4 linked regions of the Homo sapiens genome follow. The protein of the gene in region 3 interacts with the protein of the main gene of each other region in a biochemical or structural test. Each region holds a gene or a part of one and is shown on either strand. Other genes may lie near its edges.

Evidence for each region. The genes of interacting proteins can lie anywhere in the genome.
Region 1: the proteins of KPNA4 (region 3) and CDC45 interact in a biophysical measurement, tested with the Homo sapiens proteins (one large-scale study listed by IntAct).
Region 2: the proteins of KPNA4 (region 3) and ZNF532 interact in a test that uses a peptide from one of them, tested with the Homo sapiens proteins (one study listed by BioGRID).
Region 4: the proteins of KPNA4 (region 3) and MRTFB interact in a test that uses a peptide from one of them, tested with the Homo sapiens proteins (one study listed by BioGRID).

Annotation. Positions count from the first base shown.
Region 1 is NC_000022.11:19,486,420-19,489,919, reverse strand, and holds part of CDC45 (cell division control protein 45 homolog), read right to left. Parts: intron 1-3,500. UniProt on the Homo sapiens protein: Required for initiation of chromosomal DNA replication. Core component of CDC45-MCM-GINS (CMG) helicase, the molecular machine that unwinds template DNA during replication, and around which the replisome is built.
Region 2 is NC_000018.10:58,863,645-58,867,676, reverse strand, and holds the start of ZNF532 (zinc finger protein 532), read right to left. Parts: upstream 2,801-4,032; 5' UTR 2,292-2,800; intron 2,208-2,291; 5' UTR 2,098-2,207; intron 1-2,097. UniProt on the Homo sapiens protein: May be involved in transcriptional regulation.
Region 3 is NC_000003.12:160,527,572-160,531,071, forward strand, and holds part of KPNA4 (importin subunit alpha-3), read right to left. Parts: intron 3,370-3,500; coding exon 3,284-3,369; intron 469-3,283; coding exon 382-468; intron 1-381. UniProt on the Homo sapiens protein: Functions in nuclear protein import as an adapter protein for nuclear receptor KPNB1. Binds specifically and directly to substrates containing either a simple or bipartite NLS motif.
Region 4 is NC_000016.10:14,245,819-14,249,318, forward strand, and holds part of MRTFB (myocardin-related transcription factor B), read left to right. Parts: intron 1-654; coding exon 655-1,689; intron 1,690-3,107; coding exon 3,108-3,263; intron 3,264-3,500. UniProt on the Homo sapiens protein: Acts as a transcriptional coactivator of serum response factor (SRF). Required for skeletal myogenic differentiation.

The sequences.
Region 1 (3,500 bases), on a different chromosome or scaffold from region 3:
AGGAGAAACAAACAAATCTATAATCAGAGTTGGGGTCTTCAATGTCCCTTTCTGAAGAGTTGAAAGTATTACTAGCCAGAAAAGCAGCAAGCAAACAGAACTCAACACCACCACCAACTCTCAGTATGTAAGTGACATTTCTAAAAAACTCTACCCAACAACAGCAGACTATGCATTTTTTTGACTGACTGCAAATGATACTGTATTTTAAATTTTGGTGTCCACGTATTTATGGCTAGCACGCAGAAATAATAAATATTGTTTGTTTTTATGCAGGTATAAATCTAACAAAAACAGAAAATTTATACACTGAAAACTGCACAATGCTGATGGACGAGAAAGGAATGAGCCATTGATACAAGCAAACATGGATGAATCTCCAAGAATTATGCAGAGCGAAAAAAAGCCAATCCCAAAAGGCTACATACTGTATAATTCCATTTCCATTTCCATAATATTGTTGAAATGAAATTACAGAAATGGAGCTCTCTAGTGGTTACCAGGCAGCAGACAAGTGGGTGTGGCTATAAAAGGGCAACAGAGGGATCCTTACAGTGCTGGAAATGTTCTGTATCTTTTTTTTTTTTTTTAAAGCAATACCCATGGGTTATTTTGGCAGTTTCTGAATGCATAAATGGAATAGACATATTCAGTTTCTGGCAGAACTTTCACAGTGATTTCTAACCTTTAGAGTGCCAACTGAAAAATCACATGATTTATAAATTTAGAAAGGAGACTTTCTTTTCTTTAGAGATAGTCTCAGTTGCCCAGGCTGGAATGCAGTTGTGTGCTCACAGCTCACTGCAGCCTCGACTTACTGGGCTCAGGTGATTCTCCCACCTCAGCCTCCCAAGTAGCTGGGACCATAGGTGTGCACCACCACACCTGGCTAATTTTTGTAGTTTTTGTAGAGACAGGGTTTTGCCATGTTGCCCAGGCTGGTCTCCAACTCCTGGGCTCAAGTGATCCGCCTGCCTTAGCCTCCCATCCTGACCGTGATATTATACTACAGGATTTTACCATTGGGGGAAGCTGGGCAAAGTATATAAGTGATCTCTCTATATTACTTCTTACAACTACATGTGAATCTGTAATTATCTCAAAAGAAAAACTTTAATTAAAAAAAAGCCATGGTCCTGGTGAGGAAACTTTTTGCGGGTAATGGAATTGTTCTCTATCATGGTGGGATGGTGGTTGCATCTTTATACATTTGTTAAATCTCATTGAATTGTACCACCTAGTGAATTGTGTAGACATTATGCCTCAATAAAGTAACAAAATTCCCACAGCCTGAGATTTCTTTGACCCTGCCACAATGCATGGTGGGGTCCTGTCCCCTCCCTTGTGGCTACTGGATGCTGAGGTACTCCAAGGCTGGTCGGGAGAGCCATGCAGTGGCTGCCCGGGTGACTGGAATATTCATGCTGGAAGCCTGAGCAGTCATGTTGTAAGGAAGTCACATTCAATGGAGAGACCCTGCAGGTGCTTGGCTCAGTAGTCCTGGTTTGGAGCCCTCCCAGCAGATGTCTGAGCCATGCTTCCAGTTCTTAGCCATTGAGTCCCCACCTGAGGGCCCAGATATCACAGATCAAAAAGATGTCATCCTCACTGGGCTCTGCCCAAATTCCTAACCTACAGAATCCATGAGCATAAGGAAAAGGTTGTTTTAAGCTGCTAGGTTCTGGAGTAATTTGTTAAACATCAGTAGGAACCAAAACAATTAAGTCTAGTTATTCTCCTTATTTTACAATGGCACACAGAGGTTAAGTCACTTGCCTACAGTCACAAAGCTGTTATAGCAGATACAAAATTTGAAACCCGTGACCTGAGCCACGATATTATAGCACCTGTAGATTAAGTATAATTATGGTTATTTTTATAGCGGACTCTCATCTTTGCTGGGGTCCAGCTCTAACATCCAACCTTTAAAAGACAAGTAAAAATGATTCTCGACCCCATGTCTCCTCTTTTCTTTACAGCAGAACTCTTTTTTTTTTTTTTTTTTTTTTGAGACGGAGTCTTGCTCTGTTGCCCAGGCTGGAGTGCAGTGGTGGATCTCAGCTCACTGCAGGCTCTGCTTCCTGGATTCACACCATCCTCCTGCCTCAGCCTTCTGAGTAGCTGGGACTACAGGCTCCTGCCACCATGCCCGGGAAATTTTTTGTATTTTTAGTAGAGATGGGGTTTCACCGTGTTAGCAGGATGGTCTCAATCTCCTGACCTCGTGATCCACCCACCTCGGCCTCCCAAAGTGCTGGGATTACAGGCGTGAGCCACCACGCCCGGCCTATAGCAGAACTCCTTAAAACAATTATTTATAACCTATTGTCTCTAAACCTCTTTGAATGTGCACCCTTATTAATAAAAATATTTCATTCTTTTCTTTTTAAGAGATGAGGTCCTGCTCTGTTGCCCAGGCTGGAGTGCAGTGATGTGATCATGGATCACTGCAGCCTCAACCAACCTCCTGGTCTCAAGGCATCCTCCCACTCTAGCCTCCCAAGTAGCCGGGCCTATGTGACCATGCTACCATGCCTGGCTAATTTTTATTTTATTTTTCTGTAGAGACAGTGTCTTGCTATGTTGTCCAGTCTGGTATAAATATTTCTTTTTTTTTTTTTTTTTTTGAGACAAGAGTATTGCTCTGTCGCCCAGGCTGGAGTGCAGTGGCGTGATCTTGGCCCACTACAACCTCCGCCTCCCAGGTTCAAGCAATTCTCCTGCCTCAGCCTCTCGAGTAGCTGGGATTACCGGCATCTGCCATTGCTCCTGGCTAATTTTTGTATTTAGTAGAGACAGGGTTTCTCCATGTTGGTCAGGCTGGTCTCAAACTCCTGACCTCAGGTGATTCACCCGCCTTGGCCTCCCAAAGTGTTGGGATTACAGGCTTGAGCCACCACACCAGGCTGGTAAAAATATTTCTAAGAATATACCTCTAAAAAGCAGCCGGGCACGGTGGCTCACGCCTGTAATCCCAGCACTTTGGGAGGCCAAGGTGGGAGGATCATGAGGTCAGGAGATCGAGACCATCCTGGCTAACACGGTGAAACCCCGTCTCTACTAAAAATATAAAAAATTAGCTGGGCGTGGTGGCAGGCACCTGTAGTCCCAGCTACTTGGGAGTCTGAGGCAGGAGAATGGCATGAACCCAGGAGCTTGCAGTGAGCCGAGATCGTACCACTGCACTCCAGCCTGGGCGACAGAGCGAGACTCCGTCTCAAAAAAATATATATATACCTCTAATATACACATACTTAGTTATAAATCATGCACAGGTTTTAATTATATAAAAAGTATTCTTCTCAAGAATGCTTAATGTTATTAAAATCAACGCTCTAGACCTAATTTACAGATCATAGAAAATGCAGGGATAGAGAAGCAAGTTAAAGTACTCCATGAAGAAACAAGTAGTAGTAAATATTAGAAAAGAGAACTGGCCTTCAATGTCATTAAAAACAAAAGAAAAAAAAGAGGTAAGGTATGGTTCTAGGTTAAGACAG
Region 2 (4,032 bases), on a different chromosome or scaffold from region 3:
AGGTCGTCTTTAGAGCCTGCTACAGGCACTGCCGACCAGGGGCTGGGCTCTGGGCTCCACGGTGACAGGAACTGCAGGCACCGGGTCCCCCCTGGCTCTCCCAGGAAGGAACATGCCCTAGCTCATCCTGCACACTCACATCCACATTCCCCAGCCCAGAAGACTCTCCCCACTCCAGGGAGGCCTGGGCCTGCTACATTGTTATACCTCAGCATGAGATCAACACCTGAGACAAGCTCCAATCCAAGATGAGCTCATGACTCCCGCCCCAGAGAACCAGCTCTCCAACCCTCAGCAGCATTTGCAGCTGGAAAGATTGGTCTAAATGCAAAACAAATGCTATCTTCAGGAGACTTCAAGGGGGAGGGAGAGGAACAAAGCTAAAAACCACCAAGACAGAAAACCAGAACATTCCATGACATGCAATGCCCTACGAAGAGGTTTTTTAAAACATATTCGCACTGTATAGCCGTGGCAAGGGGTTAGCTGTCAAAGTTAAACAAAAATCACTGACTCTCAAAAGACAAGAATGAAGGACTAAATAATAAAACAGCTTATTGTATTAAGCTAATTAAGGTTTATCATATTAGCCATCTGAGTTTTAGTTGACATCAGAAACGCAGAAGCAGCACACCACGCGCAGCGTGGATTCGGATCTGCTTTGCAAGCATATTCCTGCCACACTCATACACAGAACCTCTGGCAGTCAGAAATGATGGAGAATTGAAAACCAATTTTAGCACAGTGATTTGTAAAGAATTTTGTTCCATCATGTAAGCTATTTACTGGTATATCCGTCCAAGATTACATTTATCTCTATTAAATACTCCATAAAGTATCCTGAGCTAACCATGCACTCTTGTTTCCCTTTTGCCAGTTTTATCACATAGTGGATGTTCTGTAGCCAAATGAAAAACATTTTAACAATAAAACCCTTGCATACTTGACGTCCTTCACTGCAGATATCCTGCCCACCAACTGCCAGCACACAACTTAACCAATTCCAAGATCCTCGGCACTGCTGAAAAGCCCCTATTCTGCTGAACACGGAGAGGAACAAAATGCCCACTTCGAAGTAGGGGAAAATTTTATTTTCAGTCATGTCTTCTATGGGCTCCTCTTGACTGTACTTTTACCAAAAACCAGCAGAAAGGCAGGACCAGTTCTATCTGTTGTTGAGATCACACTGGATCCCATTCTGGAGCTGCTGGTTTCCTGTTTGGGGAAGTTGCAGTTCTTTTCACAAGGAACCCAAGGCAAAATGTTGAGTGTTCTCCTGCAAGCCCCCTCAGCCTTTGTTCTTCACTTTGCTACTCTCCTCACTCCTTCCTTCTCTCCTCTCCTCTCCAACCTCTGGTTTTGGAAGGTGCATTAAAATGCCTGCTCAAACCTAACTGCGATCTTTAAAGGCATCAGACATTTTCTACCACCCATTCCAGTACAGCTTTGAGTTAACAGGCATCTTTTCACAGATGAAGCCAGACTACCCGGCTTCCCCCTGGTATTGCATTAGTATTCCACATTAAACATATGCCACAAAGAATCCAATGGCGAACTCACCGTCAACAGCCCCCAAAATCAATAAAAGACATTCCACCACTTGAGTCGGAGTGAAAAACCTTTCAGGTTAACACAAGAGAGCAAGGTAAAAGAAAGGTGATGAATGAACAAAAGGCAAATCTACCTTCAGACTCCTCAAATCCTAAAAAGGTGGCTAGGCTGCCTCGATTTGGTGAAGCCCTTCCTTTTCTTATAATCATCGGGAAAATGCCACATGTGTACTGCTTTCGTCTTATGCAAAACAGCACATTCTCCACAAGGCCCTGACGCCTACCATTCTCCACACTCGCTTCCTTCCAGGCCTGACTCTCCCAATTGCCCAGACACATGCGATTTAATGAAGGCATTCAGATTTCGCCTTGATCGCAATACCATCATAAAGTCACTCTAATCCCATTAAACTGGGATAACATTAAGAGCATTTCTTCTCCACTCTGAACCCAATTTTATCTCCTGGGTAGCAATCCACGGTCCGTCTGTGTCTAAATGGATCTGCAAATAAATATTTAAATTCATGCTCAAAACAGCGTATCTCACCTTGTGAACCTTGACCTTTTGGAAAGACTTTAGACCAATGTTCAGTTACTGTCACACGGCTGCATTCTCAGCAAATAGGAAAGGGTTAAAAGCAGCCCCAGTCAACAGGCCTACAAGGAAAAAAAAGACAGCATGTATGGCTAACAGCATCACTGGAATGCATTTATGTTCATTTCCTAGAACGATATTGTTACCTTTTGGCCTTCATAATAGTCAGAAGCATCCCCAACACCCTTTAGTAGCTTCTAAAAGAAAAAGCACAAGACAGAACATACCCTGCAAGAGAAAAAAAGCATGCAAAGTAGCATTCTCCAGCAACAAACAAACTACCATTACAAACCCCTCAGTTCATTTTGGTTTTGTTTTGTTATAAACACCGAGAAAGAGAGAGAGAGACTGCATCAACCAAGTGTCCCCACCCTAGCAAGGCACATTTTTTTCTCTAATAAGGGTCATAAATCTCAGCTCCTTGTCCATCCCTTAAGCAAAAGAAAAAGGCAGGAAAAGCCCAAGTAATCTCAGACCCTGCAAACCTGCACCTTTTTTTCCATCTTCTCTACCCAGAATCTTTTAGGGCTCCATTAGTCACGTACCAGTGCTGTGTGGTGTCTAAGTGTGCATTCACATACTGTGTAGGGATGGTACCTTCCTGCAAGCTCCTCTGCTTTTGGCTGCCATGAAGGGAGGAAGCTGCTATCCTACTGTAGTAGCTCAGTGACTGCATTGTGTTCAGGAGCTGATCTGCCTCAAACCAGTTTCAGCCGGTTCTGGTCACCCTACATAAAAAAGCTATGGCAACCCTCGCTGAGTTGCCAACAAGTCCCTGAAAATCATCAGCACAGGGGGGATCTCGCTGGGGTTTGCTCTTCCCTCTTAGGTCTTCCTGAGGAGGAGAAGGTCATCGTGTGTCCCCCCACCCCACGAGCACACAGCCTTGGAAATGCTCACCTCGCAAGCACCCCAGAGCCCCTCAGGGCCCATCCCCCCTCCCCTCCACCCCACAGCCCACCGCAGACACTGTTTCCCCCTCCTTCTCCTTCCCCCACTTACCTCCCACAACCTGGCTCAGATCTTTGTGTACGTGTGTGTCAGTGTGTGCTCTCTGTGTTGGTGGCTGACAAAGAGCCCCCAAGAAAGCGAGCTATGTGTGTCTGCTCACACGGGATGCGTCGGCTGCAGAGCCGGCCTGGCCTCCTAGCACAGTGGTGCTGGCTTGTTGACCAGGCTCCTCTCTGCTGTCACCCCCACCCCACCCAGCCCCCTCCTCCCTTCCGTCCCTCTCCTCTCTCTCCCAGCCCTGTCACCACCACCAGCAGCCCCCCAGTCTCCTCCTCCTCCTCCAACCTTCTCTTCTTTCAAGCACCTGGGGGGAGAAGTCCAAATCCCTTCACCTCGGGGGAAGAAAACTGGGGCTGTCTGGGGAGGGGGCGGGGGGCGAAGGCAGGGCCAGTGGGAGAGGGGGCACGGAGGCCTCTGGAAACGCATCTGTGCCCGGCCGGCGCCGGCGGGGGGAGTAGGAGAGCCGCGCTCACGTGGCCCCCGTCTCGTAACCTGCGGGGCCTAGCCCGGGCGGTTCCTCCTCGGCCCCCCAAGCCAGCTGGCGGGGCGCGAAGGCCGGCTGTCCCCAAGGCCAGGGTGGGACAGGCCACTGCGGGCAGGCCCAGGGGCCTGAGCCTCACGCGCTCACCCCGGCCCGCAGGAGTGGGCACGAGGGGCCGCACCCCGCCTCTGCCCGGCGCCCACCCGCGCCCCTGGGTCCGGCTGCCCTGCGCCCCTCGTTCGCCCCGGCCGCCTCCCGCCGCCCCGCACCCCCAGAGGCGCACACCCACCCCCTTCCCGGGGTTGGCCTTCGCGGCGGTCAAGCCCGGGCGTCTGGGCCGCAGCTCGGATGACCTTTGTTCAGCGCGGCGCCGCCGGCGGCTGCTGCTGTGGCTG
Region 3 (3,500 bases):
AGTTTTGTCTTTTTTCTTGTTACTTTCTTTGATGGAGAAAGCTGAGAAATAAAAAGGGACCCCACTGATCAACATGGGGGTTAGGGGAAGAAAAAATGGATCCTAGCATGAGACAGAAGGTCTAAATTGTATACATCTTGCATAATTATTCAAATAATTAAGAGCTAACTATATACCAAAAAAATGGTATCTTAAGCAACAAAAATTCTATTTACTATGACTTTATGCTTTTACAGTAATACAGTTCAAATTTCTGTAAGCTATTTCACAAAAACTAGTACTGAAGGCAAACTGTTTTCTCTTTTGGATTACTAGTAGCTATTTTTATTACTTAGTATATGATAACAATTTTTAGACTAGTATTACAAGTTTTATACAAACCTATGATATTTCCCAATGCCCACACTGCTTGCTCACAGACATTCTGATGGGGTGAATGGAGAAGCCTCAGGAAAAGTGGCACAGCATCTGATGGAAGAAAAAATAACAATACTTAAGGTTGAAGATACCATAAACCAAAAATCAATCTTTATTTTTTTGCTGAGACCTCAAAAAAAAGGGAACCTATAAAAATATACTTAAAATATAACCTCATTAAATGAATTTTATTGGAATAGCATCATTGGAAGAATTTTGACCAGTGACTATTTACTCAGTATCAAAATGAGTTATCCAGACAAGTGTTAAATTAGGCTTGTGAAATTTCATTAACAATTAAACCTGGAATTAATTTCAAGATTAATTCCTTATAGATTATCTGTAGTTTGAAAAAAAAAAGTACATTATTGAAGTAACTTTTTTTTTGTTTTTTTGAGACGGAGTCTCACTCTGTCATCCAGGCTGGAGGGAAGCGGTGGAATCTTGGCTCACTGCAACCTCTGCCTCCCAAGCTTCAGTGATTCTCCTGCCTCACCCTCCCAAGTAGCTAGGACTGCAGGTGTGAGCCACCATGCCTGGCTAATTTTTGTATTTTTAGTAGCGACAGGGTTTCACCGTATTGGCCAGGCTGGTCTCAAACTCATGACCTCAAGTGATCTGCCTGCCTTGGCCTCCCAAAGTGCTGGGATTACAGGCATGAGCCACTGCACCCGGCCTGAAGTAACTTTTGAACACAAATTTATGTTAACAACATGTGGGTCTTTAAGACAGGCCAGTGATTCCTGGGCCATGTGGGATCTTCCGAATCAGAAAGTGATTCTGTTACTCAACAGGATGGGAAACAGAGATAGGTCTGTATCTGAACAAAATACTGCACTGAACAAATGATTCTTCTTCTTTCCTTCTGATATTACTTTAAAAAGCACTATTTAAGTATATGTAGCTCAATCATGCTTGTAATATCATAAAAGGTAATTCACTTATGGGTTTGTTTTTGAGATAGTGCCTTACTCTGCTGCCCAGACTGGAGTTCAGTGGTGTCACCACAGGTCACTGCAGCCTTGACCTCCCCTGGCTTAAGTGATCCTCCTACCTCAGCCTCCTGGGTTGTTGGGACTATAGGTGCATGCCACCAAGCCCGGCTAATTTTTTTTTCCTGCATTTTGTAGAGATGGGGTTTTACCATGTTGCCCAGGCTGGTCTCTAGCTCCTGGACTCCAGTAATCTGCCTGCCTCAGCCTCCCTAAGTGCTAGAATTACTGGCATGAGCCACCATGCCCAACCTCATTTATTTATTTATTTATTATTTTTGGTATATTAAAGCAGACTAGCAGGGTCAAAAAAATTCTAAGCCTCTTTCTAATCTTTAGAGAGCATACATAACAGAAAGGAAAAAGTGTGAGAGGGAATAAAACATTGTTATGAAACCAAAAATTTTCCTAAGAGTCAGCTATACAAAACCAAAAAACCACAATAAAAACCACCTGAACCCAAAACCAAACCAGTTTTAATAGGATGTGAGGTAATTATCTTTTCTAAGTAATATTACAACATAAGTGTCTACAGTAAAATGATTATTTGGATAACATCTTTGTTCCCCTTCAAAATGTACAAATTAGTGCTTACATTTTTAATAAGCTCAGAGAAGTATGCTGCTTACATATTTAAAGAGGATTTTAAAAGTATCTTCTTTAAAATTATTAATTTCTTTGTTTGGTAGAACAATCAAATACTATTCATGAAGACAATACACTCGGGTTCTTACTTCCAATAATTTTCCACTTACATTTCTTGAAACAAAAAAAAGCAATCCTATTATAATAACAATGAAAAAAAAATTCGAGCCATTCTTTCAACTAGGACTACTTTATAGAAGATTTCTTTAAAATATATGATATGGCCGGGCGTGGTGGCTCACACCTGTAATCCCAGCACTTTGGGAGGCCGAGGCAGGCGGATCATGAGGTCAGGAGATCGAGACCGAGACCATCCTGGCTAACACAGTGAAACCCCGTCTCTACTAAAAATACAAAAAACTAGCCGGGCGTGGTGGTGGGCGCCTGTAGCCCCAGGTACTTGGGAGACGGAAGCAGGAGAATGGCATGAACCCGGGAGGTGGAGCTTGCAGTGAGCCGAGATCGCATCACTGCACTCCAGCCTGGGCGACAGAGTGAGACTCCATCTCAAAAAAAAAAAAAAAAAAAAAAAAAGAGAAAAATCTCATTAAGAGAGGCTGAGGCCCGGTGTGGTGGCTCATGCCTATAATCCCAGCACACTGGGAGGCCAAAGCAGGTTGATCACTTGAGCCCAGAGTTAGAGACCAGCCTGGGCAACATGGTGAAACCCTGTCTCTACAAAAAACACAAAAATATTACAAAAATTAGCTAGGCACAGTGGCACATGCCTGTAGTCCCAGCTACTTGGTGGACTGATGCGGAAGGGTCTCTTGAGCCTGGGAGGCCGAGGCTACAGTGAGCTGAGATTGTGCCATTGTATTCCAGCCTGGCCAAAAGAGTAAGATCTTGTCTGAGAAAGAAAAACAACAACAACAAAAAAACAAAAACAAAAAAAGAGAGGCTGAGAGGCAATGTGGCAACAGGAAAAACTCCTTTATTTCTACTGATGTCCTATAAATAAAGTGTAACAATAATAATGTAATCTGCTACTATAATTAGGAAATGTTCTCATATTTAGAAAGGAATCAAGTGAATTTTTGGAAATACAAAAAACATCAGTCACCAGAATAAGAAGATTAAAGTAACATACTTAAGTTGACCTATTTCAATAACTACGTAGTAGCTATTATTTTATAATTTAAATTGCCATAGTCTTTTGGGAAGATCACTATTTTTTACCGACTTCTTTTAAAAAAAATCACAATTATGTTTATTAATAACCAACTTACTGGACTGAACTACTGCTTGAGTTTGTTCAGAAGTTCCAGATGCAATGTTTGTCAAAGCCCATGCAGCTTCAAACTGTAAAGAAGGACTACAAAAAAAAACAAGTATTTTTAAACAGCAGGGATTTTTACATTGGGCCAAATATCTAACCATTCTTCCTTCTACCATTTAAAATGCATTAAATATTTTGTTTCAAAAGTTATCTATCCATCCAGCATA
Region 4 (3,500 bases), on a different chromosome or scaffold from region 3:
TAAGTTTTCTTGTAAAACAACCAATAACTGTCATTTACTGAGTGTGTACCTTGTGCAGGCACCTACCAGTTCTGCTGGATTCCAGAGGCTGTGATTTTTTTCTTCCCTGCTCAATGCCAAGTTTGGGAAAAGCAGGAAAATGTAACAGTTAAGAATATGAGCTCTAGGGCCAGCCTTTTTAGGTTTCTACCACAGCTCAGCCTTCTATTATCTGTGGTACCTTCAGTGAGTGCTTCAGCCTCTCTCTTCTTTGCCTCCCGATCTGTAAAATGGGAAGAATAATGATACGGACACCTCATGGGGTCGTGTGAAGATGAGTGGAAAGAGTAGAGCATTTCCAAAAGTGTCTTGCACAAGGCAACTACTCAATAAATGCAGCTGTATCATCATCATAATTCCTGGTAGTATCTCTCTGCTTTGACGTAAAAGCGGAATTACCCTCTAAAAACCCTTACCGTATCACTGGCTCCTCAAGTGCTTCTAGTCTGTAGTTATCTGTTTCTGTGTGCTTAAATATAAAACCAGTTCTACTTTCAGGTGTGCCGTAACGCAGAGTTGTCTGACAGACATAGGCACCTTTCCCATCACAAAAGCGTACTGTAGATTTGCCAGAAAGCTCTAATACTAAGATATCTGCTTTGTTTGTACCTCCAGGTATCAGAACTGAAGACAGAACTGAAGTTAAGGGGTCTGCCAGTGTCAGGCACCAAACCGGACCTCATTGAGCGCCTAAAACCCTACCAGGAAGTGAACAGCAGCGGCCTTGCTGCTGGGGGCATCGTGGCAGTGTCATCATCAGCCATTGTCACCAGTAACCCAGAAGTCACTGTGGCCTTGCCGGTTACAACACTACACAACACTGTGACTAGCTCAGTCTCTACTCTCAAGGCAGAATTGCCACCTACAGGAACCAGCAACGCAACCCGTGTGGAAAATGTTCATTCCCCTCTGCCCATTTCACCATCTCCCTCCGAACAGTCCAGTCTCAGTACTGATGACACAAACATGGCAGACACTTTCACCGAGATTATGACCATGATGTCGCCTTCACAGTTCTTGAGTTCATCTCCTTTGAGAATGACAAATAATGAAGACAGTCTGAGTCCCACCAGCAGCACTCTGTCAAACCTGGAACTGGATGCAGCCGAAAAGGATCGCAAGCTTCAGGAGAAAGAGAAGCAAATCGAAGAGCTGAAGAGGAAACTGGAACAAGAGCAGAAGCTCGTGGAAGTGCTGAAAATGCAACTTGAGGTTGAAAAACGAGGGCAGCAGCAGCGGCCCCTGGAAGCCCAGCCCAGTGCCCCAGGTCATTCTGTCAAGTCAGATCAGAAGCACGGCAGCCTTGGCTCCTCCATCAAAGATGAGGCCTCACTCCCTGACTGCTCCAGCTCCAGGCAGCCCATCCCAGTAGCCAGCCACGCTGTAGGCCAGCCCGTCTCTACAGGTGGCCAGACCCTTGTTGCCAAAAAGGCTGTAGTTATCAAGCAAGAGGTCCCTGTGGGCCAGGCAGAGCAGCAGAGTGTCGTCTCGCAGTTTTATGTGAGTTCCCAGGGACAGCCACCGCCTGCTGTTGTTGCTCAGCCCCAGGCTTTACTGACCACGCAGACTGCTCAGCTGCTGCTCCCAGTGTCCATCCAGGGCTCGAGTGTCACCTCAGTGCAACTCCCTGTAGGCAGCCTCAAACTCCAGGTGTGAAGTGTGTCTTCTAACTACTTTGCCTTACAGCATGCATGGAATGCAAACCCTGCTAAGGAAGGCACCATACCTGAGCTCTTCCATAAATGCGTCCAGAGCAGACCCCACGGAGAAAACGTATGCATGTGTGAGAGGGTTATTCAGAAATCTGAATATCTAGCACTGTTTTTATATAGTGAAAAAAACACAGGATGCTTTTCTAGTCCTGTTACCTTTTCCCTTGAATGAACACAGTATCATCCATGCAGACATTTTTTTACACACCAGTGACGTGATCATTGTGATCATAGTCTGCCGCTGAGCACTTTCTGGCAAGGCACAGCATCTAGTACTTTAAATGGCCGGCTTCACTTAATCCTCCCTTCTCCTAGAAGATCTAAGTGATACCACCCATCTCTGGATAAGGACGCTGAGGCCTAGGAGTACTCAGGGAGTTCCCCCAAGGATGGAGCTGGCATTTAAACCCAGGTGTTCTGCCCGCAGAGCCTTTATTCTTATGCCCATTCTTATATTCTGCCTCCCACATTTAGTTCTTGAAAGTCACTGCTTATATGAAGATGTCTAAACTAAGGAAAACATGACCACAAATTTAGGAGTGAGGATGTAATTGAAAGAGATGAGAAAACACTGATGAGCATGAAATTCCCTTTTGTGCGTACATAACCTATGTATTTACCGTGTCATGCAGTTTTGGTAAGTTTTCACCAAACATGGAGCACGAGTGAACAAGAAACCATTTGAAGCAGTGCTCCTCAGCCTCGACACCCAAATACCTGAAACAGGCGAGAGGAATCATCTCGTACCCCTGTGGTTAGGAGGCAGGGCCCACAGACCCTTTGGCAGATGCAAAAATTCTGATTCCTCTGTTTTATCTTTAGGGTATCTGTGAAATTGAAAGTCTATTCCATAATAAATCCTTAAATTTTTTGGTCCAAATCTTCCATTGCTGTAGTAGAAACGAGAACCGTGTTTTTATCCTTGGGTCTGAGGGCGCCCTGGCCCCATTGCTGGCTCTCCCTAGGGAATGCACACACCGCTTGCAAGCAGCAATTGGGACAGTTAGGTCTCACGAGTTGCCTTGCTGTTATTCAAGTATTACAGTACCTGAGCTATTATGTGTAGAACTGCCTTAGGTTCTTATTATTTCCATTTCCATTTTCTCAAAATTTTCAAATGAAAAATCTTAGCTACTTAGGAATAATAAGAGCATGCAGTGACTGGTCTGATGTTTCCCTCTCTGGTTTAGAATCATTAAAGTTCAGATTTCTGTGCAGATGAAGTGTGTATCTGTAACCTTGGTCTTATTTCATTTAGATACAATCCCCAAGTGACCAGTGATTCTACACCTAAGTTCTGATTTCTAACTTTGATTCTGACAATTAAATTGATGTTTTTTTCAATTCACCTCCTAGACTTCACCACAAGCAGGAATGCAGACTCAGCCTCAGATAGCAACTGCTGCACAAATACCAACTGCTGCCTTGGCCTCAGGCTTGGCCCCAACTGTACCTCAGACACAAGACACGTTCCCGCAGCATGTGCTCAGTCAGCCTCAACAAGTCAGAAAGGTTTGTAAATGCCAAGGAGCAATAGAATGTCGCTGATTTTTACCATCCTCCGATCATCCATTCAACAAGCATCTTTGTAAACGCCCTGGGAAGTTCCTGTTCATTCTTTTCTGTGATCCATCTCCCATAGAATGAGCCTTAGGTCAGATGCCATTTGGCTGCAGATTTCCCAGTTATTTGGAATGGAGAAAGACCTTTTCATTACTGAAAGATAGCTCGCCTTCGCAGTTAACCCCT